7 separate regions of the Homo sapiens genome follow, and regions 1, 3, 4, 5, 6 and 7 are each reported to be linked to region 2. Evidence: microRNA targets listed by miRTarBase, many of them from high-throughput screens and not tested one by one. Region 2 holds a microRNA gene; each other region holds the end of a gene's coding sequence. Distances are between the middles of the regions.

What was found. The annotated mature microRNA hsa-miR-223-5p reads CGUGUAUUUGACAAGCUGAGUU and lies in region 2 at 1,477-1,498, opposite strand. An mRNA with a match to its seed (bases 2 to 7 or 8) in the 3' UTR can be bound and repressed. Matches are read on the target gene's strand: a 7mer-m8 pairs with bases 2 to 8, a 7mer-A1 pairs with bases 2 to 7 and ends in A, and an 8mer does both.
Region 1: the mRNA of RGS5 is a reported target of hsa-miR-223-5p. Seed matches in the 3' UTR shown: 7mer-A1 at 732-738.
Region 3: the mRNA of ZDHHC15 is a reported target of hsa-miR-223-5p. The part of its 3' UTR that is shown has no 7-base or 8-base seed match.
Region 4: the mRNA of ADAMTS9 is a reported target of hsa-miR-223-5p. The part of its 3' UTR that is shown has no 7-base or 8-base seed match.
Region 5: the mRNA of DMXL1 is a reported target of hsa-miR-223-5p. The part of its 3' UTR that is shown has no 7-base or 8-base seed match.
Region 6: the mRNA of ZNF655 is a reported target of hsa-miR-223-5p. Seed matches in the 3' UTR shown: 7mer-A1 at 2,528-2,534 and 7mer-A1 at 2,847-2,853.
Region 7: miRTarBase lists C12orf60 as a target of hsa-miR-223-5p. The part of its 3' UTR that is shown has no 7-base or 8-base seed match.

The regions. Positions count from the first base shown.
Region 1 is chr1:163,143,489-163,148,179 of GRCh38, forward strand. RGS5 (regulator of G protein signaling 5) reads right to left here. Exons shown (of 5, transcript NM_003617.4): 5 at 1-4,015. The coding sequence ends at 3,854. Among named protein-coding and RNA genes, the nearest start is that of RGS5-AS1, 16 kb to the right of the region's middle.
Region 2 is chrX:66,015,702-66,020,392 of GRCh38, reverse strand. It overlaps MIR223 (microRNA 223), which reads right to left and starts at 1,523; the gene lies at 1,414-1,523. It overlaps MIR223HG (MIR223 host gene), which reads right to left. Exons shown (of 3, transcript NR_170299.1): 2 at 3,204-3,328; 3 at 1-1,569.
Region 3 is chrX:75,375,629-75,380,319 of GRCh38, reverse strand. ZDHHC15 (zDHHC palmitoyltransferase 15) reads left to right here. Exons shown (of 12, transcript NM_144969.3): 11 at 1,122-1,200. The coding sequence ends at 1,168. Among named protein-coding and RNA genes, the nearest start is that of UPRT, 100 kb to the right of the region's middle.
Region 4 is chr3:64,518,249-64,522,939 of GRCh38, reverse strand. It overlaps ADAMTS9 (ADAM metallopeptidase with thrombospondin type 1 motif 9), which reads left to right. Exons shown (of 40, transcript NM_182920.2): 39 at 680-774. The coding sequence ends at 769. Among named protein-coding and RNA genes, the nearest start is that of ADAMTS9-AS1, 41 kb to the left of the region's middle.
Region 5 is chr5:119,246,553-119,251,243 of GRCh38, forward strand. It overlaps DMXL1 (Dmx like 1), which reads left to right. Exons shown (of 44, transcript NM_001290321.3): 44 at 443-2,575. The coding sequence ends at 667. Among named protein-coding and RNA genes, the nearest start is that of MIR5706, 94 kb to the left of the region's middle.
Region 6 is chr7:99,572,723-99,577,413 of GRCh38, forward strand. ZNF655 (zinc finger protein 655) reads left to right here. Exons shown (of 3, transcript NM_138494.3): 3 at 1-3,731. The coding sequence ends at 862. Among named protein-coding and RNA genes, the nearest start is that of ZNF655, 16 kb to the left of the region's middle.
Region 7 is chr12:14,822,353-14,827,036 of GRCh38, reverse strand. It overlaps C12orf60 (chromosome 12 open reading frame 60), which reads right to left. Exons shown (of 2, transcript NM_175874.4): 2 at 2,622-4,125. The coding sequence starts at 4,101. The coding sequence ends at 3,364. It overlaps ART4 (ADP-ribosyltransferase 4 (inactive) (Dombrock blood group)), which reads left to right. Exons shown (of 3, transcript NM_021071.4): 3 at 1-1,468. Among named protein-coding and RNA genes, the nearest start is that of SMCO3, 11 kb to the right of the region's middle.

The sequences.
Region 1 (4,691 bases), not on the chromosome of region 2:
ACATCTAGCTGCATTGCAAGTCAGAAAATACCTTCCTGCAAATATGGAAGATGACAAAACTCAGTTTCAACCAAGCTGAGCTGCTCTTAAATATTTGTAGCAAAGGGATTACGTTCATAGGTCTGAGCACTTACTTTTTAACCTCTTCCCTTCTCCCCTTTCTTCCCTTTCTTTTCATGACTATTCTCTCCTAAACTTGCTAAACTCCCAGGAAAAAGGGAAAATGGCCTGCTAGGGAGAACAGTTTCAATAATGAAAATCATTTCTCTGAAATATAACTAGCTTTTACAACGATTCTCAAATTTGTTATTGGATAGGCAGTTTGGCAAAAACCTAGAAGGGAATGCTTATTAGTTTATTAATTTATTTGTTAATGGCCCAGTTTTTATTGAAACTTTTGCATGTCTATTACTCTTTGGAAAATAATTAACAGCTCCATCCTATTGAAATGGCTTGTGTACAGAGCACACATCAACCAAATAAAATCCATGGCTTTGTAAAGGATAAAAAAAAAATTAAAATAATTTATTTCACCAAGTTCTCCTTGGCACTGAATTCTACTTAAAGCATAATTCATACAGTAGAGAATTTGAGTACACGGGGTATGGAGAGTAGGGCACAAAATGTTTCCATACATTTGACTTTATTGATTTGAAAGCAAAGTTACTGAAATGCCTCAGTTAGTTCTGCATTTTAAAAGGTGTCTACCTGAAAGAAACAAAAAGTGTGTGTGTGTATGTGTGGCGGGGAAGATGGAAGATTATTCACATGCTTGAAGGCTATTCACACTGCTTTAACAAATAAACATGGAACATACGTCCTTAATTAACTGTGGAGTTAATAGTCTGTCTCTTTGTCCTGATGTAATTTAGATCTTAATCTAACCCCAACCCTAAACTATATCAAACCCAGGCAGAAAAACTGAAGTTACAGGCAACTACCTGGGCTAATCTTAGGTTTTTTTCTCAAGAGTGAGAACCATATTCTCCTATTTCCATTGACCACAATTTGGTTCCACCACCTTTCTACATCCTCAATTCACTCCCAACAGTAGTTACGTTTTCACAGGGGAGGAAAACGCCAGTACAACAGGGTTCTTGCATCAAGCTTCATGCTTTCCCAGACATTTACTCAAGGGAACGTGGAGAGGAGGAGGAGGAGGGAGCTGGAGTGATAAGCAGATGTTACACATGTTTTTCCTGGAAAGATCACCCCACTTTTTCTAATTTCCCAGAATTAAAAGAATGTATTTTATCTGTATTACCATGGAAATTACTAGTAACACTGGATTTTTTTCCCTCTTTTCTAAGTTTCCAAAAACTTTCAGAAGTGTTCAAAGAAATTTTCTTGAACAATTTTAATATGTTTGATTTCTCATTTGGGGCTGGAATATTTGTATTCTTTTTAATTTTTTTACTTCATTTATTAGAAGAGTTTCTAATATGTGTAGGAATACAATTTTAAATGTAAGATTATATAGATGTAGATATAGATAGATAGATATATGTAGATATATAGATATAATGTCACAATATCACTATAAGGCATTCCTTCTTCCATTCTTTTTATATCTCCACAGAACTGCTCTCATGGGACCCTGTCCTGCCCTGTAGGTAAAAGCCCTTCTTATTTTCCGCTGAGAGGTCTACCCACTTTCATAGGGTGTCCAGTCAATTTGTGAGTACAGTCCACTGGAGTCTTCATAACATCAACCCTCTAGGTGAGATCTGTAATAGCTAGTTAATTATCTGGGAATTTTTAAACATTTGGATATTGCAAATAATGTGAATAAAATACTTGAATTTTAAATAATTAAATTGTTTCTTCAAATGTTTTAGCGTTTATGAAAAAATAATGCACCAAGATTTTGGATTTCTAACATTTCTGGCTGTATGAGAGAGTAAAGGGTTGGCACTTTATTAACTTGGGGGCAATGTAGACATATGTTGAAGCTGGTTCTGGAAGTGCACCCTGGAAATTTTTATCTGAGTTCCTTGTCAATCCTACACAATTGCATGCAATGAGAACTTCATGATTGTAGCATTGATCTGGCCTAGCTCTGGACTGCTTGATGAAGGAGTTTCTTTGAAGTGAGCAATACTGGCAAATATGAATGAATTCACACCACTAGCAATTGTTGGCAGAACACCCAACCACTCTACCCAGTTTCAGAATGTGAAATGGCATGTATTCAGCAGGGCATATTATTCTTGAAGTCACAAAAATAGGGAAAATCCAACAAGCGCAGTCAGTGTTTACCTGAAGAATACAGTCACATAGTTGCTTCACTTTCAATATTCTTAGGAAATAACCAAATAAATGAGCTACAAATATGAGAAACTGAGAGTGTGTGAATGAAAGAGAGCAACAGAAGGAGGAAATACAAGACTAGACAATGTAATCTTCTACTTAACATTTCAGAATTTTATTAATCCTTTAAAAATCACCCTATTTCTTTTGAGTTAATATCCTCATCTCGATTACCCTCATACATGGCTTAGTTTGATTCTGTTACTAAATTCTGTGAATCATTATTTAATCAAATCTACTAAAGATTAGAAAAAATTCTAGCAAGACTTATAATCATGAAATACAGAATTAAAAGTTTAAACCTACCAAAAGTCCTATGGCCTATTATTTAGCTGTGAATGAGACACGTCAGGAGTATAAATCTGCACTTTTGACTGTAAGTAAAATTTGCTAATGCAGGAAGCGAAATAGTGAAGGAATACTGGGGTTGCTAAAAGATTACTTTTTTTTTTTTTTTTTGCAAAATGCAGTGTACCTTAAAAGTGTCTCACCTAGAAGGCCTCTACCTGTAATCACATTAATTTTTCTAAAGACAATTTGGTGTTTTGAAGATAAATGTCATTAGTCTATGATAATAGCATCATAGGACAATTAGCCATTTTAGACTTGACCATATTTTCTCTTTTTAGCATATAGCCATCTTGATATTTAGGTGGGAGACTACTCCAATGGAGCAACAGTTTCATTTTACATGATTGGATTTAGAAATTTACAAATTTTAAACTCATAAGAATTCTAAATAATTTGAAAATGGAAACATTTGACCCACAGTCTAGCAGCATAAATACATTTATAAAATACTTCATTGTTGATCTTAGGTCATTGATTTAAAACAGAATTTGGTGACTATGGGCAGGTGGAGGGGGCCAGTGAGGAAGGTATAAAAGAGAAATCTTTATGAATTGTGTTCAGATTGATTTTGTATAAACATAATATATTCATGGTTGTATCTCTTATTTATAATACCCAACTAACATGAAGGTGGTCCAAGGGAAGGATCAATATTTTAAATAACATATTTGCTTAAAATATCATACAGTGGCTGCTTCATAAAAATCTTATAAACTTTTATTAACCAAGTTCAGAAATAATTAGAGGGGTGATCTCCCTGGATCAGAACTAAAACAAGTGAGATCAATTAAGCTCCTTTGAAATAGGTCTGTCCACACTTAATATTCTTTTTTAGACCAATTTAGCTGGAAATCTATTACTTAACCCACATTCATTGATATCATAGTCTTGTCTTATATTTCTTTGCCTTAGGCAGGATTTTTCTGTGATTCTGATTGTGTCTGACTACAAGCTGAAGATATCTTAATTAATAACAGGGCAGGAAGAATTGAGTGGGGAAAGAAGGCCTTCGGACAGTAGATAAGTATCCAAAGCAGTGTGGGCAAAAAGAGTAAGCAACATCCCCTGGGATTTTTCCCATGTGGGTATCACTGAGCAAAGCTGCTGTGGGAAGATATGTAGATTAATGGGAAATGCAGGGTTATTATGGAGGAAATAACTCACAGGATGATTTCATAGCCTGGCTAAATTACTACTTGATTAACTCCTGATAAAACTCAGAGCGCACAAAGCGAGGCAGAGAATCCTTTTCCATCAGGGCATGGATTCTTTTCTGGGCCATGTCAAAGCTGCTCAGGGAAGGTTCCACCAGGTTCTTCATTGTGATGTCCTTAGTGAAGTGGTCAATATTCACCTGTGGGCCAGGAAACAGGGTCACTACATAAGCCTAAGTTATAGAATTTGATGAGGGGTGAAGAGGGAGGTGGAATTTCTCATCAATAAAACATAAGAGGGGAGGAAAGTCATTAAAAACTGAGACATGTCACTTCTCACTTTATAGGCGATGGGATAAGGCAGCTGATGTTCCAACAGATGCATCCAACCGGTATTAGACACCCACCAGGTGTCAGACCTCCCATAGAAGCTAACACACACATTACTTATTTAATCCTTGACAACAATCCTAAGAATGATTCTTTCCTTTTATAGAAAAAAATATTATATGCAGAAGGTTAAGTGGCTTCCCCAAGATCACAGAACTGATAAGTGTATTTGAATCTAGAGAATCAGAATTTGAATCCAGGTGTCCTGGTGCTTTTTTCTTTTTCTTTTTTTTTTTTTTTTTTTTTTGTTGGATAGAGTCTAGTTCTGTCACTCAGGCAGGCTGGAGTGCAGTGGCGCCATTTGGTTCACTGCAACCTCTGCCTTCCGGGTTCAAGTGATTCTTCTGCCCGAGCCTCCCAACTAGCTGGGTTACAGGCATGTGCCACCACGCCGGGCTAATTTTTGTACTTTTGATAGAGACGGGGTTTTGCCACATTGGTGAGGCTGGTCTCGAACTCCTGACCTCAGGTGATCTGCCTGCCTCG
Region 2 (4,691 bases):
TCTGGATCTTCTTTGCCTCAAAACTTAGAATATTTTTAAATACAGGACAAGCTAGTAAAGAATTCCTATGTAATAAAGATAGTCCACAGCTGCAGAGGCTAAACAAAAATGAGATGATAACATGTGACCTTTCTTAGGCAGATGGCTGGTTGGGGAAAGTAGATGAATGAAAAGAGGAAAAGATCTCCAGAAGAGCGGGAAGGTATAAAGTTTCTCTAGGACAGTTTCCCAAATCGTGCTTCATTGGACATTGACACAGGAGAAGGCTGTGGGGGAAAAGAAAATTCATGATCAGATAGGTATGGCAAATGCCTCATTCTATGGTTTCCTCTTTGAGATTCTCAATGCAACATTAGACTATTAAAGGCTCTGAAAAATCCTACAAGAAAACACCTGTATAACCTTGTGTGACCAAGTAATACCAAAATTTATTTGCCCTCTGAGTCTGCTATTTTGCCCTCTTCCTCCAGCCCTTGACACTGTTTCTCAGGAAGAAAACATCCTTCATGCTGGCTACTACCTCATATGCTCTATAACATTGTGGTGTTCACAGTTTGAATTTTTCAAAATCCAGGGTAGAATTTGGCCCCCAAACCTAAAGCTAGTGGACAAGAGGAAAGTCAATCAATCAGTAAATATTTATTATTTTCTGTAACTAAAGTACTGGGCTGTGGTAGGGGAGACAACAATCAAAGACATAGCCTTGTCTTCCAGAAGCTCACAATCTAGTTGGGAATTCAAGAATACCCCTTAGAAAAGTTCATTGACAATTTACGAGGTGCTATTAGACAGTAGGAGAGAAAGGCATACATACCAGGGCCCAGGGAAGAAGAGCTTTGTGAATGAAGAAGGAAAAAGTGTAAGTTGACTTTCAAAAGTCTCTGGAAACACTGGACTTTAGCTGGTCCAGGAAATATAGGGAAGAATTGGATAGGCAGGAATAAATGGAGAAAGTGTTCCTACAGGAAAAGACATGTGGAAAAGGGGAGAGGTAGGCAAGATCAAGGAGTGTTTAGAAGGCAAGACTGAGTATCAAGAAAGTGAATTTCTAAGCCCTGCTTACTCAGATAAGCCATTAGGCTTGTGTGAGAATGCTGATGTCCTAGATAGGAGACTCTGGGAGGGGAATATGAAGGAAGAAAATAATAATGAATCAAAGAGCACTTCCATTCCTGGACACTTTATACATTTTCAAGACTATTGCGCCCCCATCAGCACTCTCATGGTGTGTGTAGACACAGCCCAGGGCTGTATTTCCCTGAGATGCCACACTTTTCCCCTGGTGTCCTCAGATATAATGCCTCAGTTCCTGCAAAGTCACATAAAATAACTTGTGAGAACTTGGTGCTTGGTGAGCATCCTTGTATCCAGCTGGCAGTCCATTCGTCATATCCCATCTGCCCTGGCCTAGAGCTGGTAAGCATGTGCCGCACTTGGGGTATTTGACAAACTGACACTCTACCACATGGAGTGTCCAACTCAGCTTGTCAAATACACGGAGCGTGGCACTGCAGGAGGCCAGGCCAAGAGCTTCTGTGGGGAAGTGAGATCTTCCTGGGAGATGTGACCCTAGAGGGAAAGAGAGAGAAAGGAATGATGAAGTCACACCCTTAGCCCCGGGGATCTTGCTCAAAGGACCAACCAAAGCACCAGAATAGGGAAGTGAGCAAAATAGGCATAGGGTTCCTAACCAGAAGAGAGATCCTGAAGATAAGCAGGTAAAGCCCGAGTGACACCCAGTGCTCAGCTGGAAGCTCATCAGGCCTGAGTCCTGTAGCTATGGCATTTCTAGGGGTCCCAAGCTTCAGTGGGTTCCTCTATGCAGCAGAGAGGGGAAAATTTGGTCATCATCCTGCCTCCCTGACTTGAGGAAAGTACCAGACCCTAGAGTCAGCATCCTTGCTCCCTCTTCTCAATTCTCCCAAGCTGTGTTTTCAGTGTTGTGGTTATGCACATAGGCTTTGAGGTTAAACATGAGCTTAAATCCTAGTTCTTCCATTAGCTAGTTAGGCAACCTTGGATACATCATTTCACCTCTCTGAGCTCAAGTTTTCTACACCCACAAAATGTATGTAAGTATAATACCTACCTCATAAGGTTATTGTGAGAATGACAGGAGATAATGCATGTAAAGCCTTTGGTTCAGTATTCAATACATAACAAATGCTCAAAAAGTAGTGGTTGTGTGACCAAAATGAAAGAAAGAGCTATTGGCAATTGATTTAGCAGGATCTGGACAGGTGTGACATTGATTTCTTGTGGTCTCAGCCTTGCCTAACATGATCCTCTTGTCCCATAGGGACTCAAGAATGGCAGCTATTAAAGTGCCCTTAAAGATCATCTAGTCTCACTCACTTAGGTTATAAATGAGATAACAAAGGCTCCTGTTGGGGAGGAGACTTGTAAAGTTTATACAATAAATTTTTTACAGTTCAGCAGTATGCCTTATACAGCTTTCCTCATTGGTTATTTTGCCTCCCTTCTCTGTATATCCCTCTGGGAAAGGGAAGACACATCAACAAAGAGGGCAAAAACAGGCAATAGCTTTGTAATGCAACATTTGGGATCACTGAACCCACAAGCCACCAGGGCAATAAGGAAGCTGCCAGGAGCAGGGTCAGGTCTGAAACTTCTGGGAGAATTCCCTTGGCAACAATCAGATCCTGTTGCTAAAAATCCCAGGTTGCTGGTGTCAAATTACTGCCCTTACCAGCTGTGGCAGTTGATCTGTGAGCAGGTAGCTGGTCTACATTAAATATTGTCATGAAAAGTGGCAAACATCACAAGGTTACCAGAAATGGTAAACTGCCCCCATGAGGCCGGAAAGCCCTGTCCCAGCCCAGGTAAGACAGAGGGATTCAGCCTTGTCTTTCAGCAAGAAAACAATCAGTGTCTTTTCTTGCTCTATTCTTTTAATTGAATGTTAAGAAGGTAACATACTCCTTCAATTTAAGTTCTGGCAGTCATCTCAAAACTAAAGCTCTTTCACTCCCTCACTTCCTTTTCTACCTACCCAATTCAGCCTAATCCACCCAGCAGCAAAAGCAGCAGTCATGGTCACCAAATATGGCATGACAGAATCGACAAACTTGTGTTCTAATGCTGTCTTGGCCATCAACTAGCCAATCATGGCTTGGGCAAGTCTTTCTTTGGGTTTCAGTTGTCTTCTCTGGAAATGAGAACAAGGAGACTTACCTACTTACCTGGCAAAGTTGTTGGAAAGTGTTGCTAAGCTTTCCAGAGCCTCCCACATAGGAGCTCAAAAGGACCTTGTCTCAGCCCCTGGACCTATGGTTGGAGGCCAGCCAAGCAAGCTGATTAACAGAGTCTGAGTTGGGGATGGCAGGAGAAAAAGAAATGGATTGTTACCTTTTTTGTATCATTACACTCATTGGCTGTCAGCTCCAGTAAGAAGACCTAGATAAGCTGGAGGTGTTCACAGCCTTTTGAATGCACTTTCTGACTTTATTCACCTCCAGAAAGGCTGGAAAGGAGGCATGAAAGGGGCTAAAAATTATTAGTACTTTGAAATTTGTGGAGCCTTATAGACAACATTGCTTCAGTATTAATGGAAGGAGTTAGTGGTTGAGCTGAAACTAGACTGGTATGCCTCTCCAATGGAGTGTATGTAAGAAAATCACATTCAGTTGAGAAATGTTCACCAGACCCATAGAAAGAAGACATAAATATCTATATGGGATGATATTAAGGGAATTTGAAAGCTCTTCTCTTGGTCTGTTATATTACTTAGAATAACATCATTTTTCCCCATATGAAATGCAAAATCCTCTACTGAAGAGCGTCATCAAGCCACTATTGTTGATGCAAAGGATGGGTCAGTTTTTATGGAGGGAATTGGAGGGAATAGACCAGAAGAATTAGGGGTAAGTAGGTGTCTAGGAATCTCTGAACACTCAGAGTGAGCCAAGTACCTGAAAGAAAAATAGAAGAAAAGAAGAAGTCCTCAGGACCATGCCTAAAAATCCCAGACTGCCTCTAGTATGAGCAGGACCTGTCCTGGGTCAGTTACAGGACAGGTCCTGCTGCTTGATGTCTCAGTCCTCCTAGGATAGAGCAAAAAGAGGACTGACCTGGGAGCCCAGACCCAGCTGTGCTACAGATTCTCTGTATGACTTTGGGCAAGTCCCTTTCTTCCTCTTTCTGGACCTCAGTTTCTTCCATATGTACCTAGTCTCTAAGAGTCTTTCAATTTTGAATCTCTAGGAGTCAAAGATTGGACTAGAAAAGAGGCTTTCATCTTTGAGTCATGCCTCTCAGAGAGTGCTATATGGATTACCACCAGCACTCTCCTCTTGAATGTGTTCAGCCCCACCCACAGTTACATATGCAAAGATTACTCTCATCTTCTTTCTTGACAGAGGGCTGACAATCATGAAAATTAGGAATCTAATAACCATGGGTCTCTAGACAGCATCTATCTAATCATTCTTTTCCTCTTTTTACTTTTTTATTTTGCAAAAGGGGTGAAAAAACTGTGTCCTAGATTGGAGAAAGGACTTACCCAAAGATACACATTGGGTAAATGGTAAAACCAGGACTGCTACTCAGGTTTCCTGACTCCTGGGTCCAAAGGCCATTCCACTTCCATGTGACTATCTCCTAAACATCCTGATTGGATAGAAAATATCCTATCCCCTTTTCCCCTCCATTAGAACCTCTAGGATAAAAGG
Region 3 (4,691 bases), 9.4 Mb from region 2:
AGCAAGGCAAGGAAATTTATTGCACTTTCAGAACTGTCTTTCACTATTTTTCAGTTGCCTTCTTAGTAGAAATGTTGGGTAGGCAAGATGAGATATATGCTTAAGCACTTGCAACCTCTTTTTCTCTTTATTTGATAAACATAAAGTTATTTTCTGTGTATCTTTCACTGAAGACCTAGGCCAATACATTTGCTTTCTGCCCAAACTTAAAGGGAAGAATACCCTAAGGCTAGGATTCCAGACAAGACAGAATGTTGGGCCTACCATAGGGTCATGATTCCAAAGAGACATTCTCAGAGCCACTTTTATTTTTCCAGTTTTCCTGGAAGAAAGCAACCTGCTGTCTGGAATCTGCCTGTTTAACTCAGTGGCATGAGAGCTTGCAGCCTTCTGTGGCAAGGATAACTCACACTGACTGGCTGGCCTCTGTCTTTAGGAATCTAGATTTCACACTTAAGAAAGCACTCTGAATGGCACATAAAAGACACTGTGCTGTGCAGAAACTGTAGGGGATGGCTACTGTCAACTTTTTAATCTCAAAATGCCAAGTATATTATTATGCTGTGAGTATGAGAAAAGTGATTACCTGTACATTCAGCAAGCTGATTCAGAGTGTGCTCTCCCAAAAGGCTGGAGGTCAGAAACAAAAACATTTGTACCATAAATGATGTTGCTTGTTAATCCCAAAGCCTCTTATTTTCTAGATACCTCATTCCTTTTTTAGAAACACACCATCACCTAAAGTACTGTAATAGCTAACTCAATTATGTCCGGTGGAATAACAGCAAAACAGGGTAATTTTGTGGGTAGCAAGATGCAAAACATTCCATTAAAGTCAGATTATGTTGAGCTGTCATCATAGCTATTTAAGTCAAATACCAGCCAGTATTATAGATCAGATAATGCTGATAAATAATCTTAGTTCATAGTATAGCAGGCTGACTATTCTTAGAATGTGAATGTCTGGTTACAAATGCTTCTGTGTTACACATCAGTCTTTAGAGGTTTGCAGGTATCTGTTGCCTGCAGAGATTGAACAAGAAGGAAAACTGCCAGTGAATGAATACCCACCCATATAAGGCACGGGGACATTTGATCATCTTCACGTTTCAACCTTGCAGATTATCCAGAAGGCTCATCATCTCTTGCTGTGGAAACGGAAACATAGCAGTTTTCACATTTCCTGCATCTCTCAGACAGGTCAGTATTCTGAGGGAGACACATACAGTGGCACCTGGACTGCTAAGAAGGCGGCTTGGGAGAAGAACTAGAAAAGAAATAAGTTCTTATCCTGGGTGAAAAAGATTTTAAATTCTTCACTCTTGTAATGCATGCATAAGCAGAAGTTCTATACATAATTTCCCTTGGCAGTGTGCTGAAAAAAAAGATGCCCTTATTCCCTGCAAACTCACACTTATGTCACTTGTGCTGAAAAAAACTCCGGGGATCCAGACACCCAAACATTCCGTTAAGGTTATTTACTCTCATACTGTGAATTATAAGCCTCCTCCTGTTTCATTCCAGGTCTCTGAAATGGTACAGATTACAAATAGCTTTCTTTTGCCTGACTCCATTATGTCAGTTAATAACCTAGTCTTCCCCACTAAGGGCAAAAAAGCATCCTTCCTACACTGTAACCCTCCTAAAATGCTATGAGTTTGTTAAGTAGTGGCAGACAACTTTACACATGGGATTCTCTTTGGCCTGGTGAAAAGCTCGACGACCTTCTTTTTGCAACACTCACAGGTATAAACCCAGTGTAATTAAATATTAAAAGAATGTTAGTAATAGAAATACCATAGAGCTTATAGCTCTGATCGGATGAAACTTCTAATCCTATTCTCATGAAAAAAGCTAGCAATTATTCAGAAGCTTACAATCTGTTCGTGGGTTCCCAGGTCTTCAGTTCTTTCCCTTACAGAAATTCTGCTGTGTACAAGTGTACATATTGTATAAAACTTTGTATATGCCAGCCACTTTGGTGTGTACTTGATATATATGATCTTATTTAATCCTCACATCAACTGTAAGATGAATGTTACTATTCCCATTTTACTTATGAGAAAACTGATATGCAGAGAGGTTAAATCACTTATCCAAGTCTGCATATGTAGTAAGTGGCCAACCTAGGGTTGTAACTCAGGTCTATCTGACCTCAAAGCATGCTATTTCCACCATGGCACTACATTTCAAAATCTGAGTTATTTGTGATGTGTCTTTATTTATTATCAAAGATTAAAAAAGGAGAGAACCAAGTCTGTTTCCTTATCCAAAGCCCTGATGAAATGTTTGATGTTTAGGTAAGACAACTTATATGATAGTAATATCTAGATTTGGGTTATCTGTGGTGCTAATCTGTCTATTTTATTTTAGTATTTTCCTAGGGGAAACACTACTACTTTGGCATGGTAACAGATGTTAAAGGGAAGAAAAATTATCTGGTAAATAAATTTATAAAACCCTATATAAGCAAAATTAGAAAGTTGGCTTTAGTGTAGGAATTCTCAGGGGTTTTACTACACTATTGAGTTTTGTGGCTCACCAAAAGGAGGTTGTAGTGGTCCCTTAAATTTTATTTAACTGTTGGATCCTTTCTTTTTTGTGCCTATCATGGAACCTAGTATTTCGTGCAATACTTATCAGGACCATTAATATGCTAAGGAACTTTGAAATGCATTTTTTATATACTTCCCTAGATAAGCAAAATTGCCTTCAAGCAATGCCTTATGCCTTTTACAGGGCACTCTGTCCAAATATATTAATAAAGTGATTCATTTTGTGGAAATCACAAACTCATATATACATATATATATATTTTTTTTTTGAGATGGAGTCTCACTCTGTTGCCCAGGTTGGAGTGCAGTGGAGTGATCTCGGCTCACTGCAACCTCCACCTCCCAGGTTCAAGTGATTCTTCTGCCTCAGAACCCAAGTAGCTGGGATTACAGGTGTGTGCCACCACGCCCGGCTGCTTTTTGTATTTTTGGTAGAGATGGGGTTTCTCCCTGTTGGCCAGGCTGGTGTCTAACTCCTGACCTCAAGTGATCTGCCCACCTCGGCCTCCCAAAGTGTTGGGATTAGCCACCGTGCCGGGCCTCATATTCTGATAATAATAGAAAAGTACTTGGGAACACAGGAGGGAAGAGTGGGAGAAACCTTTTAAAACTTATTAAGATATGAAGAATTGTTTAAACTGTATGTAGATAATTACTACAGTGATATTTGTAAAAAGCTCCAAACTGAAAACAACCTGAATGTCTATCAGTAGAAGAATGCATTAATACATTATATATGTCCAAGTAATTAGATATTTAATATATATTTCCCTTCATTTTCTTTTGAAGTTTTTTAAATAAAAAAGGATGAAAGAAAACATGAATCCCTTGTGTTTAAAATGTAGAATCAATGCTAATTTTTTCATTTTGCCTCTAAATTTTGTATATAAAAAATTATTGCCATAATTTTTACCCCAAAAATGTACTTATTCTAGATTATATTTTCTTCAAAATGAAAAGACAAACTTGAAAAATATTTGCAAACTATACAACACACAAAATTTAATATGCTTAATTTACAAAGCTCTTGCAAATCAGTAAACAAAAGAAAAACACAACAGTTAGAAAATGGGCAAAGCAACAAAAGAAAGCAATGAGGAAAGAACTCTCTATTCAATTAATGGTGCTGGGATAACTGGCTAGCCATATGCAGAAGACTGAAACTGGACCCTTACTTTTCTCCATATGCAAACATTAACTCAAGATGGATTAAAGACTTAAATGTAAGACTTCAAACTATAAAAATCCTAGAAGCAACCCTAGGAAATACCCTTCTCAACATTGGCCTTGGCAAAGAATTTTTGGCCAAGTCCCCAAAAGCAATTGCAACAGAAACAAAAATTGACAAGTGGGATCTAATTAAACTAAAGAGCTTCTGCACAGCAAAAGAAATTATCAGTAGCAAAAACAATCTACAGAATGGAAGAAAATATTTGCAAACAATGCATCTGACAAAAGTTTAATATCCAGAATCTATAGGGAACTTAACAAGCAAAAAAAAAAAAACAACCCCATTAAAAATGGGCAAAGGACATGATGAACAGACGTTTCTCAAATGAAGACATACAAGCAGCCAACAAACATATGAAAAAAAATGCTCATCATCACTAATCATCAGAGAAATGCAAATCCAAACCGCAATGAGGTACTATCTCACACCAGTCAGAATGGCTATTATTAAAAAGTCAAAAAATAACAGATGCTAGTGAAGCTCCAGAGAAAAGGGTATGCTTATACACTGTTGATGGGAATGTAAATTAGTCCATCCACCGTGGAAAGCAGTTTCAAGATTTCTCAAAAACACTTAGAACTGCCATGCCACCCAGCAACCCCATTACTGGGTATATATACCCAAGGAAAATAAATCCTTCTAACAAAAAGACTTATGTACATATATGTTCATCACAGCACTATTCACAGCAGCAAAGACATGCAATCAACCTAGGTGTCCATCAACAGAGGACTAGACAAAGAAAATGTGGTACATGTATATGATGGATACTACACAGCCATAAAAAATAATGAAATCTTATCCTTTTCTGCAACATGGATGCAGCTGGAGGCCATAATCCTAAGAAAATTAACACAGAAACAGGAAACCAAATAATGCATGTTCTCATTCATAAATGGGAGCTA
Region 4 (4,691 bases), not on the chromosome of region 2:
GTATTCTTTTAGCACAGCTATAGTGTCATTTCATAATAATCACAATCCTTTGTCATCTAAATTTGATAACAAAATAATCCACATGCCATTGTACCTTAAAAGTGCAACATTCAAAGTCTACCTTTCTCTTCTTTTCTTGATTTGTCATAATGGTATACACTGGTAATAAGCACATAAATTGTAATGATCTAGCAATACACACATCACTCAAAACACTCTCAAATTAAAACAATGTCACTGTGATTTGTTGTGCACCGAGAAGCAGTATGAAGCTGAGACTCAGTTCTTTTTTTGCAGCATGAAAGCAGCTATAGACATCAGGTAAATTAATGAATGTGGCTGTATTCCAATAAAACTTTATTAATAGACACTGAAATTTGAATTTCATATGATTTTATGTGTCAAGAAATGTAATTTTTGGTTTACTTTTTCTCAATTATTTAAAAATATAAAAATCATCCTTAGCTTGCAAGCCATACAGAAACAGGTGGTGGGCTGGATTTGGCTCACAGGCTGAAGTTTGCCAGCCCCTGCTTTAGACCATGGTGAGTATGTTGGGCTTCACATCAGTTCAGAAGGCCTGTTTACTGTGTGTATAAGAACGTTTTCCCAAAAAGCCAGTGCAGGCCCTGAAAGCATTAACCAAGCAGGCAGGCTAACATGATGCATCTCCTTGCAGGATGGTACCCGAGTCGTAGGGAAATGCGGTGGTTACTGTGGAAAATGCACTCCATCCTCTGGTACTGGCCTGGAGGTGCGAGTTTTATAGCTAAGGTAAGTAGTCCTATGTCTGTCTGTCTGTGTATTTGTCTTTTATTTTTTTCTGTAGCCTATATGAGCAAATGTGGGAGGATCAGGCAGGGTTACAGTTAAGCATCTTGAAGCTGACCCAATACAGTTCTACCTTTTTATCTCCTGCTCCTCTGTCCTCACGTGACTGAAGCCATCAGTTCTCTGCCATTAGACATGGCTTCCCCTCTACAGAGCTGGCCTATTTATTTATTTGCTTTTAGATTTTAGATTCAGGAGGTACATGTGCAAGTTTGTTACACTGTTATAGTGTGTTGAGATGTAGGCTTCGTTTGAACCCATCACCCAAATAGTGAAAGTAGTATCCAATAAATAGTTTTCCCTTCCCTTCCTCCTCCCTTTTGGAGTTACCAGTGTCCATTATTTCAGTCTTTATGTCCATGTGTACCCAGTATTCCACTCCCACTTATAAGCAAGAGCATATGGTATTTGATTTTTTGTTTCTGTGTTAATTCACTTAGGAAAATTGCCTCCAGCTGCATCCATATTGCTGCAAAGGACATGATTTCATTATTTTTTATGGCTGCATAGTATTTCATCATGTATACAGACCACATTTTTAAAATCCAGTCCACCATTAATCGGTACCTAGGTTGATTCCACGTTTGCTATTGTGAATAGTGCTGCAATAAACATGTGAGTGCAGGTGTCTTTTTGGTTGAATGATTTATTTTCTTTTTGATATATACCCAGTAATGGATTGCTGGGTCAAATGGTAGTTATATTTTTAGTTCTTTAAGAACTCTCCAAACTGCTTTTCACAAAGGATGAACTAATTTACAGTCCCACCAACAGTGTATTCCATTTTTCTCTGCAGTCTCACCAATATCTGTTATCTTTTTACTTTTTAAGAATCGCCATTCTGATTGGCATGAGATGTTATCTCAGTGTGGTTTTGACTTGCATTTCTGTGATGATAAGTGATGTTCAGCATTTTTTCTTATATTTGTTGGCTGCTTGTGTGTCTTCTTTTGAGAAGTGTCTGTCCATGTCCTTTGCCCACTTTTTAATAGGGTTATTTGTTTTTTTCTTGTTGATTTGCTTAAGTTCCTTATAGATTCTGGATATTATTCCTTTATCAAATGTATAGGTTAAAAATGTTTTCTCCTATTCTGTAGATTGTCCATTTATTCTGTTGATAGTTTCTTTTGATGTGCAGAAGCTCTTTAATTTAGTTAGGTCTCCATTATCAATTTTCATTTTGTTGCATTTGCTTTTGAGGACTTAGTCATAATTTGTTTGCCTAGGCCAATGTTCAGAAGAGTATTTCCTGGGTTTTCTTCTAGAATTTTTATGTTTTGAAGTCTTACATTTAAGTCTTTAATGTATCCTGAGTTATTTTTTGTATATGGTAAGAGGTAAGAGTTCAATTTCATTCTTCTGTATATGGTTAGCCAGTTTTTCCAGCACCATTTATTATAGGGTGTGCTTTCCCCATTGTTTATTTTTGTTGATTGTGTTGAAGTCCAGTTGGTTATAGATGTATAGCTTTATTTCTGGGTTCCTTATTCTGTTCCATTAATTTTTGTGTCTATTTTAGTACCAGTACCATGCTGTTTTGGTTACCTTTAGTTTGCTGCCTTGGAGTAGAGTTTGAAGTCCGGTAATATGATACCTCTGGCTTCGTTCTTTTTGCTTAGGATTGCTTTCGCTTTTAGGCTCTGCTTTGGTTCCATATCAATTTTAGAATAGTTCTTCTTCTAACACTGTAAAGAATAACATTGGTAATTTGATGGGAATTTTGTTGAATCTGTGTATTTCTTTGGGCAGTATGGACATTTTAATGCTATTGATTCTTCCAATAGATGAGCATGGAACGTTTTTCTATTTGTGTCATCTATGATTTCCTTAAGCAATGTTTATAATTCTCCTTGTAGAGCTCTTTTACCTGCTTGATTAGATGTATTCCTAGGTATTTTATTCTTTTTGTGGTGACTGTAAATTGGATTGCATTCTTGATTTGGTTCTCAGCTTGAATGTTATTTGTGTATAGAAATGCTTCTGATTTTTGTACATTTATTTTGCACCCTGAAAATTTACTGAAGTCATTTTTCAGGTCTAGGAATCTTTTGGTGGAATATTTAGGGTTTTCTTTGTATAGAATCATATTGTCAGTGAAGGAAGATAATTTGACTTCCTCTTTTCCTCTTTTGATGTCTTTTCTTTCTTTCTCTTGCCTGATTGCTCTGGCTAAGATTTCCAATACTATGTTGAATAGGAGTGGTGAGAGTACACATTCTTGTCTTGTTCCCATTCTTAGGAGGAATGCTTCCAACTTTTGCCTGTTAAGTATGATATTGGCTGTGGGTTTGTTAGAGATGGCTTTTATTTTGAGGTATGTTCTTTTGATGTCTTATGCCTTGTAGGTTTTTATCATGAAGGGATGTTGGATTTTATCTAATGCTTTTTCTGCATCTATTGATATGGTCATATTGTTTTTGTTTTTAATTGTTTGTGTGGTGAATCACATTTATTGACTTGCATATGTTGAATGATCCTTGCCTGCCAAGAATAAAGTCCACTCGATCATGGTAGATTATCTTTTTGGTATGTTGCTGGATTCAGTTTGCTAGTATTTTGTTGAGGATTTTCATGTCAATGTTCATCAGGGATATTAGTCTGTAGTTTTCTTTTTTTCTTGTGTTTTTGCCAGGTATTGGTATCAGGATGATAGAGGTTTCATAGAATGAGTTAGGAAGGAATATCTCTTCTTCGATTTTGAAAAAATTGTTTCAATAGGATTGGTACCAGCTCTTTGCAGAGCTTATTTAAAAGGCTGTTTATTGGGCTGCATCTCTAGGGGTCCTGCTTCATTAGGTCTCTGGTGGATTCAGGGATCTGTAACTTTAATACAGAGAATTCTAATGCAAGTGAATCACAGCTCATCCTTTGAGAAATACATCCCAAGAATGTAATAGTAAAACTACAGTGGCATTTGTTGAGCAATATTTCATTGAATCCTCACAACAAAACTGTGTGGAGGAGCTGCTATTTTACATATGAGGAAGCTGAGGCCCACAACAATTAAGTAACTTGCTTAAGATCATGATGAGGCTGGGCACGGTGGCTCATGCCTGTAATTCCAGCATTTTGGGAAGCTGTGGCAGGCAGATCACTTGAGGTCAGGAGTTTGAGACCAGTCTGGCCAACATGGTGAAACCCCATCTCTACTATAAATTCAAAATTTAGCTGGGTGTGTTGGCACATGCCTGTAGTCCTAGCTACTTGGGAGCCTGAGGCAGGAGAATCGCTTTAACCTGGGAGACAGAGGTTGCAGTCAGCCAAGACCACGCCCCGCCACTGCACTCCAGCCTGGGTGAGAGAGTAAGCCTCTGTCTCAAAAAAAAAAAAAAAAAAAAAAAAAATGAAAAGGTAATGATAAATTCCCTCGGCAGAACTCAGAGTGTCCTACACTAAAGCCAGTGCTCTTAATCACTCCACTGTGCCACACCCCTGTTACTCATGGTGTGGTCCAAGAATCAGCTCGATCAGCTTTACCTAGGAACTTGTTAGAAATGCACAATGTCAGGCCTCACCCTATACCTGTGAAATCAGAATCTGCATTTTAACAAAGTCCACAGGAGTCATGCATGTTAAAGTTCGGCAATCCCTGACCTGAGTACATTATGCCAGAAGGTGATTCTTCTGCTGAGTAAAAGACGGAACTGGTCAGTCTTTTTATCATCCCCATGTCTTCAGCTGCAAGGAATGAGCTCAACCAATTCATGTGACCCACCTGCATCTTCCCTCAAGCTTCCAGTAGCCCATTACCGTGTAAGGCTCTTGAAGATCCTGATACAAGAGTGCCTATTTGACATTTAGGATTATTTCTGTTACAAGGAGCTAAGGAAATGAAGGAAATTTGTTATCTTAAGAAACTG
Region 5 (4,691 bases), not on the chromosome of region 2:
TCTCTATTTTTGTTTTGGAAATTCCTTACTGCACAGGAATGCAGGCCTAAAATTTTTATTTGGTTTCTTTTCTTTTCCTTTTTTTTTTTTTTTTTTTTGAGATGGAGTTTCACTCTTGTTGCCCAGGCTGGAGCGCAATGGTGTGATCTTGGGTCACTACAAACTCCACCTCCCGGGTCGAAGCAGTTCTCCTGCCCCAGCCTCCTGAGTAGCTGGGATTACAGGCATGTGCCACCTCGCCGGGCTAGTTTTGTATTTTTAGTAGAGATGGGGTTTCTCCTTGTTGGTCAGGCTGGTCTTGAACTCCTTACCTTAGGTGGTCTGCCTGCCTTGACCTCCCAAAGTGCTGGGATTACAGGCATGAGCCACCGCACCTGGCCTCATTTGATTTCTTAAGGTCATCATCAACCCTAATTTTCCGTTTGTTCTTAATATCTTTCAGATTTGGAGTCTCTCTACCTTTGGTCTTCTCCATACTTTTGTCAGTGAACATGCTCGGCAGTCCATTTTTAGAAATATTGGAACTGGAGTGATGCAAATTGAGACAGGGCCTGCAAATCACATTTTCTCCTGTGGAGCTGATGGAACAATGAAAATGAGAATACTGCCAGATCAGTTTAGCCCTTTAAATGAAGTGTTGAAAAATGATGTGAAATTTATGCTATAACATTTTTACAATAAGATGTACAATTTATTACCTATATGGAAGTGGCCAACAGATATAATATACAGTGATCATTCTCTATGCCACAAATTAGCTAATGCTTTCTTGTTTTTATATTTATTTTATGGAGCTTTGCCCTTGATGCACTGATGCCTTAAAAATTAACAAGGTCATTCAGAAGTAGATTACATTGCCTAAAGTAGAATGTGTAAGTAATGCTGTAATAATACATATCATAGTATATTATAATCAGTATGTCATAGTGTTAAAGGTGTTTTGTTTTCTTATTGATACTTTTCCACAGGCATCTCTGCATGAATTTCTTCCACAGTAAAAATACGTTTTTTGTAAAGGCAATTGTACATAATACTCATCACTTAATTCACCACACTCTCACTTCCTTTATTAGCCTTATACATCTCAAACTCTTCTCTTAATTAATGATAGGTATTTGAGTAAGAATGAAAAAAATAATGAACATCTTCATTAAAATTGTCATTGAGACGTCAGTGATAAATGAGCTAGATGGCTCAATATGTAAGGTTTTCAGTAGTTTACCCTCCGGAACCCAAGTTGTATGTATGTATACGTGTGTGTGTGTGTGTGTGTGTGTATCTTACACATCTTATTTGAACTTAGTTGTATATATTAGCGAAAACTGGTTTTTCATGTGTTTTTGTGCCATAACAACTATTGCCACCAGAATAACTTTTTTTTTGCAACTGTGCTTTTCATTTTTAAAAAATTTTTGAATTCCCATCCTAATTTTCAAATAAGTTTCAAGGAGACTATCAGGATTATTATTTTAAAGATTAGATTTAGTCAAATAAGTCTTAGCAGGCAATAAAGTTTCTGTGGTGGCATATATCATGTAAGACACTTAAAGTAAGTTTGTGAATTTGTCAACTTTCGAGCATCAAACAAATATTTTACTTAAATTTTATTTTATCTTATTTTTAGGTGCTTTTAATCTCAAAATTCTGAAAAGCGAATAGCAGTGTTTTCAGAAACAAATGTGAAAGCAGTCAAATTAAGTAGATACTATTTAGAAATGTAAAATACTCTCCAGATCTACCATTAATAGAAAATAAACTAAACCTTATATTTTATTTTTGCCAAAATATTTTATTATAAAATATGACCAAAATATTTAAAATGCACAATGCTTTTAACTTAAATGTGCTAACCCTGTTTCTGTCTGTTTTGTGCTGTACCTTTTCTGATTCAGAATTATAGAAAACTTGATAAATACTTGATTTTAACCAATGAGACTACAGGCAGATGGGACTAAGTGTTTATGGGACAATTATGTACTATTTAACTTAAATATATTTTGTTTAATAGGAAATATATAATAATAGCATTTTATGTAATAAAATATGGGCAACGATTATCTTGGAAATTAAAGAGTCAAAGCAAAGAAATGAAGGGCTGGTAAAATGAATTTTGTAATATCCTCAGGATACTTTTATCTTAAAAGTATGTTGTTAAAGATTTTGTAAATTGTATTTCAACAATTTTAAATGTGTTGAGCAAGTTGCAGTGCAAACACTGTCATTATGTAGAGAGTTTATATGCACATAATAACCTGTACCTATAAATCGTGCAATAACCATATGCGACTATTTTGCCATGGAGAAATCTGACAGCATTGCAAACAATAGTATTGTTTGATGTAGTTAACCTTAAGTTATTTTTCAGTAATTTCTTCACAAATCAAGATTCAAACAGCTTTAAACACTTCCAATGAGATAAAATATTTACTATTATGCTTATTAGAACAAAAGGTGTTTAAGGATGAACTAAATATTTTAATTGAGCATTTATATGGATAATCATACATTATGTAAGCCCATATGTATTTACATCCAGAGTCATAATATTTTAAATAAACAATCATGCAGAAACTTTTTTAGGGGGTATACTATTGTTTTAATATCGTTGCCAATTTAGCTGACTTAAAATATGTGACATTTTAAAATCAAGAATTTCCATATTTGTATTTGGTTAATGTAAGGAGGATGGAATAACTTTCCCGAATACCCTGTTCTTTTCTACCGTCTTTTTAAGTTGATAGGTAAGCAGCATTCAAGGAAGGTGGGAATAAAAATTGTTGAAATGTTTAAATATAAAATGATATACATATATGTAAAATTTCATTATCCACATTAATGGAGTGGATACATCAAAATACATTTTTTAATTGTGTGTTTCCTAAGAATGTGGCTTTGTGATCATATAAGGATTCACAACATTAACAAATCTTATTTTCTGATATCTAGGATTTTTCTTAACTAAAACCATGGACCAGTCATCTCCATCCTCCTTTCTTGCTCTTTGCCCTTGCCCTCCCTTCTTTGAAAAAAAAAATATTTTTTAGAAGAATTGCAGAAATTTCTCACATTGGTCCCAACAATGGAAACACAATACAAAGACACATTCAAAGAAAAGTCTATACAACCTTAGGGTGGAAGTGATCTTTTTAACAAGATTGGAAACACAGACATATTTTACTTAATAAAAAATTTAAATGTCATATGGCAGGGACCACAGTCAAAGTTAAAACAACAAGTAGACTAGAAGAAATATTTGTATAGTAATAGGAAACATGTCAGTGTCCCTGTATACAAAGAGAAGTTTAAGTTATTGGAGAAGTGGTCACACTGTGAATAAGCAATTCACAGAACAGGACATTGAAAAAGTCAACAAATATAAAGTGTGTTCATCTTCATTATAAGGGTTAATGGATTGTTTTTTAAAAAGTATTACTGTAATACTAGTTTTTATCAGATTGGTTTAAGGTTAAATAGTGACAATATCCATTTTGGTGAAGATGCAAGGAAATTGGCAGAAACATTGCTGGCAAAGTTATCTGGGTGTGAATTAAAATCAAATACACATAACTTTCAGTGAACAACCTTCTGAGAAATTATAAAAATAAAAGCTTCCATGCATAAAAATGTAAGGACACAGATGTTTATTGAAACATATTCTAGAGGCCAGATGTGTTGGCTCACACCTGTAATCTCAGCACTTTAGGAGGCTGAAGCAAGCACAGGTCACTTGAGGTCAGGAGTTTGTGGCCAGCCTGGCCAACATGGTGAAACCCATCTCTACTAAAAATACAAAAATTAGTGGAGTATGGGGTTGTGTGCCTGTAGTCCCAGCTACTCAGGAGGCTGAGGCAGGAGAACCACTTGAACCCAGGAGGTGGAGGTTGCAGTGAGCCGAGATCATGCCACTGCACTCCAGCCTGGGTGACAGAGCAAAAGTCTGTCTCAAAAAATAAAAATGAAAAAAAAAAAAAAAAAAAAACTGGAAATCTAAATGTTAATTAGCAAGTAAATGGTTGAATAAATTATGGTACATACATGTAATATTATAGAATATTCTCTCACCACTAAAAAGAATGTTAGATATGTATATGTTGGCCTGAGAAGAGGCTGATGAGGAAAAAAAATTACAGAGCAAAAGATACAATATCCTAATTGTTTAGACTTTTTAAAATATATATGAACAAAGAAATGCATGTGGAAAAAATACACAAAACTTTTAGCATTGGGAAAAGGAAGAAGGCTGTAATATTTTCCCAAACTCCTTTAAACCTCACTCAGTAAAGTAATACCAAAGATAGTTTTGTTGAATGTGTGTACGTGGGAAAAACAGCTTTATTTTTAAACCAAGTAGTACTTCATGACTTTGGGAGCTGCTCTGTTGAATAAAGTGATCTGGTGTCAGGAACACTCCTCTTTGAATTGTTGAGATATTTTTGGTGAAATTTATTTAAGCTGAATGTTAAAATGTTACCCTTTGGAGCAGGAGTCCCCAGCCCATGGGTGACAACTGGTACCGGGTTGCACAGCAGGAGGTGAGTGTTGGGCAAAGCTTCATGTGTATTTATAGCTGCTCCCCATTGCTTGCATTACCACCTGAGCTCCGCCTCCTGTCAGATCAGTGGAGGCATTCGATTCTCATAGGAGCAGGAACCCTACTGTGAACTGCGCATGCAAGGGATCTAGGTTGTGTG
Region 6 (4,691 bases), not on the chromosome of region 2:
CCCTAACACTGAGAAATCCTATAAATGTGATGTATGTGGGAAAATTTTCCATCAGAGCTCAGCCCTTACTAGACATCAGAGAATCCATACTAGAGAGAAGCCCTACAAATGTAAAGAATGTGAAAAGTCTTTCAGTCAGAGCTCAAGTCTTAGTCGACATAAAAGAATACACACTAGAGAAAAACCTTACAAATGTGAAGCATCTGATAAATCCTGTGAAGCGTCTGATAAATCCTGTAGTCCAAGCTCAGGCATAATTCAGCATAAGAAAATTCACACCAGAGCCAAATCTTACAAATGTAGCAGTTGTGAAAGAGTCTTCAGTCGTAGTGTCCACCTTACTCAACATCAGAAAATTCACAAAGAGATGCCCTGTAAGTGTACTGTATGTGGCAGTGACTTCTGCCATACTTCATACCTACTTGAACATCAGAGGGTCCATCATGAAGAGAAAGCCTATGAGTATGATGAATATGGGTTGGCCTATATTAAACAACAAGGAATTCATTTCAGAGAAAAGCCCTATACGTGTAGTGAATGTGGAAAAGACTTCAGATTGAATTCACATCTTATTCAGCATCAAAGAATTCACACAGGAGAGAAAGCACATGAATGTAATGAATGTGGAAAAGCTTTCAGTCAAACCTCATGCCTTATTCAGCATCACAAAATGCATAGGAAAGAGAAATCGTATGAATGTAATGAGTATGAGGGCAGTTTCAGTCATAGCTCAGATCTTATCCTGCAACAAGAAGTCCTCACCAGACAGAAAGCCTTTGATTGTGATGTATGGGAAAAGAACTCCAGTCAGAGAGCACATCTAGTTCAACATCAGAGCATTCATACCAAAGAGAACTCATGAATGTAATGAAGATGGGAAGATATTTATCAAATTCAGGCTTCATTCAGCATCTGAGAGTTCACACCAGGGAGAAATCATGTATGTACTGCATGTGGTAAAGCCTTCAGTCATAGCTCAGCCATTGCTCAGCATCAGATAATTCACACCAGAGAGAAACCCTCTGAATGTGACGAATGAAGAAAAGGTATTAGTGTTAAACTCTTAATCGACTCCTGCAAATCTATACCAGTGAGAAATCTTACAAATGTATTGAATGTGGCAAATTTTTCATGCTATTAGTATTTTCATACCTTAGTCACATTTGGAGAATTCACATGGGAATAAAATTCCATTGCTGCAATGAATGTGAAAAAGCCATCAGTCAAAGAAACTACCTTGTTTAGTATCAAATTCACGCCATGCAAAAAGATTATAAATGTAATAAGCATGTATGTGTGTGAGGAGATTCAGTCATAACCCAACGCTCATTCAACATCAAAGAATTTATACCTAAGAGAACTTATTTGGGTGTAGTAAATGGCAGATCTTTCAATAGGAGTTTAACTAGTCTTTGTCATATCAGAATATCCATAGTAGACAAGAATTTGATGTAACGCAAATGGAAAAACTCGACACCACATTTCAGGCTTTACCCAACATCGAAATAATGGAGAGAAAATTGTTGATTATTTGTTTATGAAATTGTTAATACATAGTCCCAATCTTTTTCATTGCACAAAAATCTAGGGTTGACTTGGTAAATGCAGTGACATTTTCTCATGGAGTTCCTTTATTTAATATGTATTCTAAGTAGGTACGTTTATTTTTACTTTTTTATTATAATTTTGATATTAAAAAGAACAGAGATGGGGTCTTGCTTTGTTGCCCAGGCTGGTCTTGAACTCCTGGCCTCAAGCGATCCTCCCACCTGTCCTCCCAAAGTGCTGGGGTTACAGGCGTGTGTCACTGTGCTGGGCCTATTTTATTTATAGAACTCATTTAAGCTGTTTTTATTTTAATATGCCCTATAAACATTTTTATATTTTTTGAAATTGGTTCTTAGTGTTCACAACTTCCATAAGATACTGCTAATGCACCAGTATTAAAACACATCGACGTAAGTAGCTCATTTAGCTTTTTCTGCTGTTCTTGGCCCAAGTTCTTTCCAAAACCAACTCTTAGGCCTGCTCTTTACTAGGGATCTTATGTCGTATTGCTTTACAGCCACAACACTTGGATTCCTGTTGATTAACTTCTCCATTCTCTTAAGCACCTTTAGAAGATTTAGAAGTTTCCTAGTTTTAAGTGTTTCACCAGCAAGTATTCCATACCTACTTGATGTTGCTGGTCTGGTGTCTTATTTCCTAAAGTGAAGCATCTTTTTTTAAAAAAGAATTTGATTGACAATATATCCAGTCCAATATAAGTATGAAGGATTCTCTCTCCTGAGATTGTAGCAGGCAGCCAAACATTTTCAAATGATGCCCAAGGTTTTAGCTGTCTTGTGTGCATCCACAGTCTGCGAAGAAGACATGATAAGGACATCAGGGAGCCAACAAGACTCCTAATAGCCTCACTACATTCATCCAGTGCCTATTCTGCATGCCTAAGCTTAGAGTTCTTTTATATACCTCTACGGCCAGCAAAATGCTCAGGTCTGCTCTTGGTAGGGTAAACATAAAGAAGATACACAGGCCGGGCATGGTGGCTCACACCTGTAATCCCAGCACTTTGGGAGGCTGAGGCGGATGGATCACGAGGTCAGGCAGTCGAGACCATCCTGGCCAACATGGTGAAACCCCGTCTCTACTAAAAATACAAAAGTTAGCCGGGTGTGGTGGCACGCGCCTGTAATCCCAGCTACTCAGGAGGCTGAGGCAGGAGAACTGCTTGAACCTGGGAGGCGGAGGTTGCAGTGAGCCGAGATTGCACCACTGCACTCCAGCCTGGGCGACAGAGCAGGACTCTCTCTCAAAAAAACACAAAAAAACAAAAACAAAAAACCATACACACACACACACACACACAAATCAGCATCATAAGGGAATGTAGCCTTCCAACAGAGATGATGCTGTTCGTATGTTAATCTCAGAGACAGTATTTCAAGAGAGTGGCAGGTCTGTTCCTGGTAAAATTTTAACCATTAGGATTGCAGATAAATGTTTGAATTCTGCTCCTCTCTCATCAATCCAGGACAGTATTTGAAGTGTGAGGGCTTTGTGTATAGTTGTTTATCCATTACCACATTTTTGTATTTTAATAGTCTACAGGCTATATAAAAGAACATGGCTTTTTGACTGATAAAAGTGATTACAGATGTTGGCTCAAGTTCAGGGCCACCATCATATACCTAACAAGAGTTCATGATTCTTTAGGTAATGTCAAAACATTTTGTATTTTTCCATCTTAAGCTTTATAACATTTTGTGAGTAAGACAAATGTTATTTAAAATTCTTGTTGTCAGTCCAGCAATTGAGGCTTTCATAGTTCAGTGTTATAATATTCAGTAGGGACCCTCAACAAATATATAAAAATATGTTGCTCACTCTATAATCCTCCTATGGCTAACCTCTAGGATAGTTCTGCCACTATATTTTACTTCTTTGCCATCAGCAAGAGTAGGATTTCATCAAGGCAAGGTAGGAATCTAAATGAAATTGATATATAAATGAATTGATCTAAATGTAAAAGCAAATGAAAAATGCATGTGTTTTTTCCTGTCAAACATGTATACCCTTATGTATAGAGACCAGTAGTCACGTATGGTGACTGAAACAGGATTATGTAATCCCTAAAAAGCAGAATATGTAAAAATCACATGTATGCGTTTGGTTTAGGAATGTGCTTTTGTACTTCCACTTGAATAAAGGTGTGTTTGGTATTCTGAGAATTTGTTTCAAACAAAATCTGAAGGTCTCAGACAGAAGCGTTTGGGAATGTTGGAATCACATCTCTGGCTGCAACTCCTTTCCTCCCTGGAACTTGCTTCACAGCAAGAATGGATCACTTTCCTTTGCATTGATAACAAAGCTTGCTTTTCCACAGACCTCTGGAACAAAAGCTGAATGTTTGGGACTTAAAGGGGATTTGATTGGGAAGTTGTTGGTATATAAAATAAGACTAAATAGTTCGAGGTTTCAGTAGAACTAGGAATAACTTTTTGTTTGTTTGTTTGTTTTTTGAGACAGTCTCGTTCTGTCACCCAGGCTGGAGTGCAGTAGCGTGATCTCGGCTCACTGCAACCTCCGCCTCCTGGGTTCAAACGATTGTCTTGTGTCAGCCTCCCAAGTAGCTGGGATTACAGGCACCTGCCACCTTGCCTGGCTGATTTTTGTATTTTTAGTAGAGACCGGGTTTCACTGTGTTGGCCAGGCTGGTCTCAAACTCCTGACCTCAGGTAATCTGCCTGCCTCAGCCTCCCAAAGTGCTGGGATTACAGGCGTGAGCCGCTGTGCCCAGCCATATTTTTTAAATAAGTAAAACACTTTAAAAAAGGCGGACTCAAAATAGTCCTTTAGGGCAATCCTTTAAGCAGATATTTAATTGGCCTGATACATGAGTTTGTGTTCTGAGTCATTTTGGTCTTGAAAGGGGAGAGAAGAGAAATACGATAGTAGAGGGCACTTTTATCTTCTGTCTTTCCACCTACCTACACACACGTATGTTTGTACATATCTAAACTTTATTCTCAATTCTGCAAAGCAGCTAGCTTCATTTTACAAAGGAATATTTTAGTAAACATACCCCAGGCCAGGTGCAGTGGCTCACGCCTGTAATCTCAACACTTTGGGAGGCTGAGGCGGGCAGATCACTTGAGGTCAGGAGTTGGAGACCAGCCTGGCCAATGTGG
Region 7 (4,684 bases), not on the chromosome of region 2:
TCATAACAATTCAAAAGAAAGATTTCTTCCAACTGAGGCAAGAAGAGACACCCGGAAGGCTTTAAGTAAGAGGCTGCATTTGAACCAGCCGTTAGGGCTCTAGGCTGGGAGAAGGGGTGAGCAGAAGGAGAAAAAAACAAGAAAGAGTATGTGCCAAGTGCGTAGTGCCCAAAACAAGGCCAAATATTAAATGCTTGGAGCTGAGAGAAAAATGTGATTCCTCTGGCCTATGGTTAGATAAAGCTTTCTATCAGAGATGATGTTTTACTTAGAGGAAAGCAGAAAATAGAAGCGAATACGGAATGATCGATGTATGTACAGCATAAGGTCAGGGAGCAGATAGGTCTGGCAGAGAGTGAGGGGTAATGTGGGCTGGAGAGGAAATTGGAAGCCACTCAGTGAAGCTAAAAAGTCAGCCAAAAGCATTTGATTTCCATGAGAAGTCATAATTTTCTGAGTAAGACAATTCTCCTAAAGCGTTGACTCTCTAGGCACAAGCAGCAATAGCATCCTTTAAGAACTCATTAGAAATGTGAATTTTAGGGCCTGATCCCAGACTACAGACTACAGAAATTGAACAGTCTGTTTTAATAAGTCCTCTAGATGATTCTGCTATACACCAACATTTGAGAACACTGTGACTTACACAATTATGATCCTTAAGGGAATAGCCAAGTTTCTAAAAAAGATAACTTAGTTCTAACTCCTGCTGCTGTTTTACAGATCAAATCTCTGGAGACAGAAACTATTCTCTTAAAATTATGTAGATTCATGAGTTTGGTTAAGGATAAATGTACATAGCTCACATCCCCTCAGTCTCTCCCTATAGTCCAAAGTTGTTGAGCAAGGAATCTGTAGAGTATTGATTTAAATTGATTAAGTTACATGTTTATGAAACTCTAAGAGACTAGTTTTAGAAATTTCACTGTAATTTCTGCTGGGATAAATTTGTTAGCCTGGGATATCTTCCAAAGATAAGGCGGATGCTCAAATATGTGTAAATTCATGCAACTGTTAACAGAGACTGTGCTGTAAGGAGTACTTATGTCCTATAGTAATTTTATTAAACAAATACATGTATGTCTCCTTTTGATGTGTACAGAAATATACTGTTTAATCTGAAGAAGCTGATTGAAACAGGAAAAATTTAAAAAGTAAAAACACTCAACCCATGTAATACTTTATTTTTATAACAAGGTGTTCTCTTTAATACGCCTATTAGATTATCCTGAAGTTCTCTATTTACTCTTACTTTAAAAAAAATCCAATGAAAGAAAATTTCAGTAAAGTTTGTTTTGCTAGAAGAATCAGGATTCTTGTACTGAGTTGTCTAATAATATGAATCAAATTGATTTACACTGAATGAACTAGCTCTTGATTTGGTAAAATTCAACAAGCATTTATTAGGTGCTTTCAGAAATACCAAGATGCAGCAAACACTGGCAACTAATAAAAAAAATTACAAGTATAATAGTATTTCATTTTTTTTAATAGTAAATGATCATGTGTTGTGTTGTGTGGCAGTTCACTTTTTCCTCCCTACTGATGATTCATTCAAACAGCTAGGCCATCCCATGCTCACAGCCTAGAGGAGGAATGAGACCAGGCATAGTATAGAAACACACCCCACTTTGTTCTTCAAAAACTGAAGGATATTAGAGAAAATGAGAGGAACCCAAAACCAAAGTATTTGAGAGAAACATTAAATGTGAGTAATAGGTTTGAGAAAAAAATACAGCTTTTCCTCAGTATTTCCAGAAGCCAGGAGGCAGCAGCAGACATGATGTCATTAGAGTGGTCAGACTGGTGGTACCCAGTGGTGGGAAAATGTGAAACACTGTAAGTGATCACCAGCCTAACAACAGCCACCAGCACTGGAAGACCACTCATCTTTATTGAAGTGGGCACTTCCCATCTCTAACACCCTGGTTGTCATTCCCATTGGCATCTGGCAAGGACTTCCTGTGAACTGCCACCAGCTATTCTTCCAGTCACCTCACAGAAAGACTATGCACCAAGACTTTTCTTGGTCCTTGTCTCATTCATTTCCATATGAATCCCCCTAGCTGTTGCATCCAACATTCTGAAACATAATCCTAAAACTAAAAGGAGATTGAAACCCTAGACACATATAGGTCCAGAAAAAGTAGCAAAGTGAGAGTCCTGTCTCCCTTCTCCTCTCTCTCACCCTCTGTGTGTGTGTGTGTGTGTGTGTGTGTATGTGTATGGTAGCAAATGAATCAATTTAACATCCTCTTCAAAATAATAGAGTTCTTAATAGAAACCTATTACAAATAAGCAAGGTTTCAGCTTTGCTGTGGAGAGAAAATGAGAGTTAATGTATTGAAACTCATCGTTTTTTCCAGAACCTCCAAGCTCTGGTAATGGTCAAAATCCACTTGACCCTCCCTACCAAACATTTTGAAATTATATGAGGATGGAGAAGGGACTCCTTATTTTAAATGACAATGGGAATTACAATGATGGCTTTGGCTTGGAGTTATTATTGCTTTTCCTATTCTCAACAGAGTTCTATCAGGTATCATGTGAAATAGTTAACTTCAACACCAATCTTAGGAGTACATACTCATTTACAATGCATGAGAACCAAAGACTTATGGTAGACAAAGAGACTGCCCTATCTCATTTCTTTAAATAAAGCACATCTCAGATATCCTACTTCTGCAAGTGTTTTCCTTGTGAAAGTCTTTTCTTTGTGAAAGGCTAGAGTACTTCCATTTTTCCACCTCTAGTATTTTCTAATCATAAGACCTCAGGAGACAAGTGAGAATGAACTATCTGTTCTGGTCTTACTCACATAAGCAAGAAAAGTCTATTATTGCTCATTCACTGTTCTCACTTACTTATGAATCATATTTAAAATATTTAGTGATGGCTTCTGATCGTCAAGGTACTGAAGTATATAGAAATTGGTATATGAGTGACAAAAATGGAGTTTATTTTGTTTCCCAGGCCTAGATTTTCTATCTAATGATAATATTTACAGTTTACCTGGATTTCTCACTGGAAATAGAATAGTTAAGAGTGGGAACTACTTTAGGGTTGTTTTAATTATGCTTTAAGATGAAACACAATATTTAGAAACATCCTCAAATGTAATACCACTTTGTTTTTTTCAACAATATATTCTTCTTAGTGACTGACATTTCAAACAGGCTTTCTTAATTATTTCTTTTTATTTTAATAAAGCAAAACTACAGGTAAATGTTTTGCCAGATGACTTTTGTGTACTTATGTTCTAACATAGCACATGTTTGGCACCAAAAGATCTTAGAAACTACTATGAAAAACCATAAGATTTTAAGTAGTTTTCTGACAGAAATGAACATTTCTGTTGCATCCCTACTTGTCACTGGCTTTCTTAAACACAGAAATATTCATTTCCATAGTCTTTATCGCTTTTTGGAGGATCTCTAAGATTGGTCCCATAGCCTTGACAATTTGTTCCAACAAATCTGCTGCTGACTTTGTGGGATTTTTGGAATCCTCAGTTTTTAGTACATCCTGCAGTTTTTTCAAGGTGTCTATCATAGTGGTTTTGGAAGAACCTGGAGGACTTCTGGTTCTCTCAGATGTGGTGACATCTGATTGCTCTTTGGTGTCTTCTGTATAGAAGTCACTTAATTGAAGATTCATGATGGGGAATTTCATCAAGTGTGAAAGAGAAGATTCCAGACTCCCAAGGATGTTACTGCTGTTTAGCACAGAGATGATGACTGGCGTATGGGCACTTTTGAATACTTCTTTAGCTGACTGATGCAACTCCTCTACATTGGTACTCTTCTGAACCACAGAGCACATGGCCATTGCAACCTTGGAACATAAAGACTCCTTTTGAATTTTGTCATGTCTTGCATCCACTACAGATTGCATCTCCTTAAAAATTTTGAGCATTTGCTCAAAAAAATCCTTAATGTAACTATTGTTTTTCACAGCCATCAAAAGGATTTGAGTATTCATACTGCGGCTAAACAATTCAGTCAGTGTGTTTATGACAGAAGCAAGATCTTGTACATGAAAGAAGAACATTTTGGCAGCTTGAATCAGTCTCTCTTTATCCTTTTCTGACTCTGAAGACATTTCTCCAACAAATAAGTTCCAACACTGCAAAGCAAAGCAGTAATCCAAATGAAAAATAAAAGTCGATTTGGCAACCATAAAGAAACTGAAAGTATAGTCTAAATATGAAGATAACTCCCCCTGCCAAGGGCAGGAAAGCTATACATACGTTGAAACAAAAATGGTACTATGCTTCAATAAAAATAATAACAAAAATAATTAAAACAGGGTAGAATAGGGTTGTATCGCCAAATTTATACCACATATCAAATACTGGGTGCTGGATCCCGAATATATGGATAGATTGATATACTGAATTACACTACACTCAAGGATACTACCCTTAACTATTCAATGTAGTGAAAAATACTGGATAAAGCATTACAAATTACATAGAGGGGCTCTGGTTCCAGTTAAGGTAGACTAAGCACACTCCATCTGATCTTTCCTACTGATTACAACTAAAAATCCTGGACTGAATATATAAAATCACTATCAGATAATTCTGAAAGGTGGATGACAGAAGGCCAAGGAAGTAGGGAGTACAGCATTTAAAGGACAATAAAGCAATGAAGCTCTGACTTTTTGTTTGAGGGTGTGTTTT